2 separate regions of the Homo sapiens genome follow, and region 2 is linked to region 1. Evidence: fine-mapped expression QTL. A gene starts in region 1. The other region holds a variant in brackets. All regions are shown on one strand. Distances are from middle to middle. Region 1 holds the start of CFAP61-AS1 (CFAP61 antisense RNA 1). Region 2 has its middle 2.9 kb from the start of INSM1.

What was found. PIP is the estimated chance that this variant, and not a neighbour inherited with it, causes the effect.
Region 2: its variant is fine-mapped to the expression of CFAP61-AS1 in prefrontal cortex (ROSMAP, PIP 0.92).

The regions. Positions count from the first base shown.
Region 1 is chr20:20,266,232-20,269,142 of GRCh38, forward strand. It overlaps CFAP61-AS1 (CFAP61 antisense RNA 1), which reads right to left and starts at 1,606. Exons shown (of 4, transcript NR_183979.1): 1 at 1,263-1,606. The region is part of intron 21 of CFAP61 (cilia and flagella associated protein 61); the gene reads left to right. RefSeq lists an enhancer at 835-1,335.
Region 2 is chr20:20,363,795-20,366,705 of GRCh38, forward strand. No RefSeq gene overlaps it. Among named protein-coding and RNA genes, the nearest start is that of INSM1, 2.9 kb to the right of the region's middle. The variant T/C (reference allele first, on the strand shown) is at 1,740.

The sequences.
Region 1 (2,911 bases):
GGGTATATGATACTTGAGTTTCATTGCTGGGCTTTCAAATCCCTTTTCATACTGCAGAAAGCCTAGTGATCTTTCCAGAACTGCATTTTGAAAAGAATATAGCTGTTGCAGCATTGCTTCTGAGACATCTACAGTACCATACTTGGCTGAAGCTCCAAGCCATTTCTTTGATAATTTCAGCTCTACTCTATCTCAGTGTCACTTGTATCCAGCATAGTGCCTGGCACATAGTAAATGCAAAATAAATGTTTTACTGAATGTAAGTGAAGACAGTTCAGGATGTAACTCTTTTCCTTACCTCCCACATGGTGAGTTTTATCAAAACTTTTTGCATTCGGCCTACCTGGAAATAGATGGTCAATTGAGATGAAGACAAGAGAACCCTTGAATGAAATTGAAGCTATTCTTTAAAAATTCATCCTTAGTAATGAGAGTAATAACATGCTGGCTACACAGGATGAGTTAAGCTCCTCCTCACGAATAACAGACATTTATAAAGTCAGTCTAGCTCAGGTTCTGGAGTCACGTGACTTGGGTTCAAATCTTGGGTCTGCCGTTTCCCTGGGCAAGTTACTTAACTGCTTTGTGTCTCAGATTCTAGATAATATCTACCTCACATGGGTTGCTGAGAGGGTGAAAAGAGATAAATGAGATTACATGCCATACTCAGGACAGTCTCTCATACATAGAAAGAGTTTCATAGAGGCTGCCATTAGCATTGCTCTTACTTCTATGTGTGATGGAATTAAAGGTACCCTAGAGTAGAAGTCTCAGCCCTTGCCACCAGGGCCCTGATGAAGTTGAGGATATCAGTCTCTATTTAAAGACAGGGATCCGTGTACACCAGGTGCCAGTCAGCTATAGAGGCACTGTGGCCTTCAGGAGAGCCCTGGAGGCTGTGAAGTTTGGAGAAGGCCTCCCCGAGAAAGGAGGATTTGAGCTCAGTCTTGAAGAGGGACAGGATAAGAAGAGAGAGAGGCTGGGGGAGTTTGGATTGTGTCCAAAAGACACTGGGCCAACAACGTGGGCTGGGCAGAGTCTGTGAAGGGCAGCAGCAGGAGATGAAGCCAGAGGCATGGGCAGGGACAGACACTGGCGGGCCGCAAGCACCCAGCCACGTCCAAGTTTAACTGGTTACCTTTTAGGGATGGGAGCTGACCAGGCGGGTGCCGCTGTACACACATAGCACTTTGGGAAAATGGCCTTTCCATCTGTAGTACCCATGCCAGCAGAGAGAAGGTGACCACGGGAGAATGGCTTACCATGGATGGCAGTAGCCAATAGGGGCGAGGCAGCTGTGGATGCAGGAGCTAGCTGGAAGTGGCCACCCTTGCTGCATGTGGTGGTCTTGCTGACACAGCCACTGCTAGCTTATTTCCAAGTCAGCGATGAGATGGTGGTGTTGCAGGGCTTTTCCGTAGTTCAGCTAAAGATGGGGTCCTTGTCCGTCCCGTGGCCACGAAAACGTAGCCTCGCAGACGGTTTGAAGGGTGAGTTAAACAGGGTTTTACTGGGTGAAAGGAAAAAAATGGGGTGGAGGAGGGGGAAGCAGGATCCTCCGCAAGGCAAGCCGGCTACTTGATTCCCAGGTTCCACACAGGAAGAGGAGGGGCCAGGCTCCTCCCCACTGCAGATGGCATGCATTTCCGGAGGCTCCACCCCAATGTGCAGGCTGGTTGGAGTTTTTCTAGGGACTCCCTCCCACCTGCCTGTCTCATTGGCATTTGAAGCCAGAAGCTAGAAGTCTGGCACATGATGGAAAGCAAGGAGCAGGGCTGTGCTTATGCACGTTTGAAAAGTCGCATGGAGCCATCCGTGACCGTCCTGGACATTTCAGTCCTTGCTTTTTCTTCATGTCACCCTAATAACACCAGGAGGAATGTGGACAGTTTTCATCATAGTTTATTTTTACTCCCTCAGTGCTAATTTCCCCTTTTTTAAATACTTTAGCATGTGAGTTGGGGCAAGGGAGCCAAGGACAGTGAAAAATAGTTTCATCGTGTCCCACTGGCTGTGGTTGGGTGACATGTCCCTCCGGGAACCACACCCTGAATCCTAACAAACACCAGTGCTGATGTTACTGAAGCCCAGGGATGTGAGGGGAGAATGGTGGATGGATTGTTCTAGAACAGTGGATATTGGGCATCAAGAACAAGAGATACTCCCAGGAGGAAGTCGGCTCTCCTTTGAACTTCTACCCATTGCAGACGCACACAGATACCACCCCAGAGAGTAGCTCCTTCCCACAGTCACTGTTGTATTTCACATCTTCTGCTTCCAAAGGAGAACACAGTGGTTCTGTGATGGAATTAGTCCATCCAGAGGACATGGTTTTCCGGGCTCTAGAGTTGGATGGATTTATAGAAGTAAATTACCCTAAACTATTAGAACTGCTCTAGTGCCATGGAGAAGAGCTGACATCACAGGCTCAAATGCTGCTTTCAACTGCAAACAAAACCTGGAGTGTTCTGCTGGGGGGTTTCTGATAGAACCCAGCAACCCGATACATTATAACAATTTATGGCACTAATTGAAACTAATTGAAATTCATCTGCTATTACCTCTGTACTTTCCATGAAAATGAAAAGTAGGATGAAAGTAAAGTAAAAAAAATAAACTACCTTAATGGCTCAAAATGGATCAATTATTTTCATCTTTAGCTAAATACAGTTTACTGCCTTATTAAAAGCATGTTTGTAGGAAAAGTATAACATTAAAATTCCACTGCATGCATCATCGAACAGAGGCTTTGTTATGTTATATCTAATATATTCTTCCCTTTTTATTCAGCAGAGCAGAACGGGACAGGTCACGTTTTGGGCATAGAAATCTTATGCTTTGGCTTCTAAAAAGTAAAAAGCGCATTGTCTGGTTCTATTCGTGGGCTATATATATATATATATATATATAT
Region 2 (2,911 bases), 98 kb after region 1:
GTGGGGTGGGAGGAAGGGGAAAGGATCGGGGTCGCCGCAGCCTTTCTGGTCAGTTTCGCTGGGTTTTGTCAGTTCCGTTTGAGACCGAGGCGCACGGACTAGCGGCCGCCAGCACCTCACAGGTGGAGGACACCTCTTGCGCCCCAAGGTCAATGTCATCCCGATGGGTCCCGTGCCGTCCTGACTCTCCCTGACCTAATTCTTTGGTTATGACTTTCTCACCTTCTGGGCTTCGCCTCTGCCAGCTTTCGCCGACGTCGCCCTTCCCGCCGCCCGCCCGGGCCTTCCTACCCGCTCTCCTCCCTCCCTGGCCCGACGGTCCCACTGAGGCAAAAACAAACAGCCCTGAGGGCACTTCAAGGAGCGTGCAGTGGCCCCGACGGTACTCTCGGGGGGATAAAAGAGGTGGCCAGCCACGCCGTCGGCCCCCGGCCGAATAATGGGCGCGCAGCAGATTGCCAGGGGGCACTTGAAACTCGAGGGGAGGGAAATACTTGAGCGCGGTCCCTCCCCGCGAGGACGCACGACGCAGCCTCGCGGATCGTCCCTTGTTCGCTCTCTTTCATGCACTCTCCTTTTGTGTGGAATTATCTAAACGGGAGATCCCTGGCAGCTTTATGCTAATGCGCCGAACAAAGGCAACGGCCCGCGGGCGGGAGGCCCGGAAGGTGCCTGGGGCCGGGCCGGGCGGGGTGGCGGCCAGGCGGGCTGCGCGTGTCTCTCGCGTGCCCCTGGGACTGACACAACAACCCCTCATTCCTGCAAATACAAAGCCTCTCACCGGCTCGGGTCGGGCGCACCCGGCGCAGGGAGGCGCTGGTCCCTCCGGGCGGCGGGCACTGCAGCGGTAACGCACGGTTCCTGCCGGTTGTGGCTCGGGGGACTGAGGGCCGGGAGTGGGGGCTTCTGTGAAGCCAGAAGAGAAGTCTGCAGCAGAGTGGTGATGAGGGGCGCTGACACCTCACCCCCAACGCCGACGTCTCCAAACGCGATACCCTCTGCGGGGTGAGAATGCGGGCCCGCCCGGCTCCTCCCGTGAGGCCAGGGCCTCCTGTTCTCCTAGACACCCCAAGGAGCCAACTCCTCCGCAGAAGTTCCCCGCTTCTGCTCTTATTTCCAAGCTTCGCGCTTTCTACAAACTCCCTGTTGCCTTGACTTTGATTTCCAGCCGTGGTGAGGGTCAGAGTGAACCCCGGCGCGCTCCCCGACGGCATCCCCGCACACCAGGATAGGAGAAATTGGAGGGCCTGGGGCCTCGGGCTCCGCAGTCGTCGGAGGAAGAACCCACCGCGGGGTCCGCAAGGGAAAGTGAAGAGGCCCGGGATTTTTCCAAAGCGCTGGCCAGGACCCCGAAGGAAGGGGAGGAGTCACCTGAAGCCGGGGAAGGCCCCTTGGGTGCTCTGCCTTGGATCCTTATGTTCACTGACTTTCGCGAAGCCCCCCTGGAGGGGGGCAAATCCGCGCTGTTTCCCCCAACTTAACTTCACGCGGCCCATTCTCCGAATCGCGTGCGCCAAGGCCGGCGTCGGGGGCGCACTGTGATGGCGCTTTGCTCTTCCCAGGCGAAGACAAATATCTCGACCCGATGTCCCCATGCATGCGGGTGCACAGGTTCTGAGAAAATCACGCAGAAGGCGGCTGCGATCCACGGCCCGGGCTGGGCTACACCTGCTTGGAGGTCGCTGGTGTGTGCGTGCGCGCGTGCGCAGCCTAACTCCTTCCAGCCCCGGGTGGTGAAA[T/C]TAGTTTCCAATACTAGTACCTTTCAAGTTTCCATTTATTTTGACTGTACCCGTCTGAAAGCAGATTTCATTTACGCTAGCAAGACTGGAAGCCACAAATAAAGAAAAAGAAACGGATTCATTGAATCTCAGTATCTCAGTAGCGTTTAATAGATTCCCTTGGCTAAATTCAGAGCCCTGTTTGAATTCACTCACGCAGGAGTTGTTTTGTTTTTTTTGTTGGTAGAGGTGCCGGTTTCCCATCCCCACGGCTTATTTACAATTATGGGTGTTGTTATTTTTAAAGGATTCACAAGGTGACTAACTCTCTGTTATCTGTTGAATGGAAGGAGTGTTACATATGCAAGACCGAATGGGGCAGGCCGAGCCCCCGCCCTATGCTATTCTACAATCCAGATGGGATTCGTGATTAGAAAATAAAATTGGCCAAAGCTGTCTCGGAATCCTTTTCCCACTTCTAATTTCATCAGCACTATTAATCAGAGCTCAAAAGAGCAAGGAAATAACATCAGTTACTTTTAGATAGAAATATGTTTATAAATTTTAGATAAACTCATTTTAAGATTTCTAACTTTTGGGGAGACTAGCACTCACCACAGCATTTTTAAAACTAGGGTGAGACTTTTCAAAATATATTTCACTATATGCATTCTTCCCTTTTCAGTGTGTGAGTTAAAATATTACAAACATAAAATTATCAAATATCTTTCCCTTGATTAACCAACCTGATTAACCCCTTAATTAATTAAGCCTAACAACTGTCCCCATCACAACTTATGACTCATGTGGACTCTATTTTTACATGTTTAATTTCTACGCCAGGGTATTTTCAGAGGGAAAATCCAAAACAATTAAATACCTTCAGTGGAATTAAGCGTAAGTAAAACTCAGCAAAATCTGTCTGGTATACAAAGCTTTGCAGAAAAATGTTTCCTTCTCTTTCAATAAAGTGACATTTTCCTCACAGCATATGACATTTTATGTGGCTTGGCTATTTGTTCCCCAGTGTTGGACGATCAGGGCCACTACGCACTCGTGGGGTTCTCTGCCCTGTCCCCCGAAGATTCTGCCTTTTGTGTTTCCTCGGGGCTGGGCTGGACAGAGGATGGAGGCAGGCGGCCCAGTCTGGGTCCAAACGGAACGGCAGCGGAGGTGGGGGTGGGGGTGGGGGC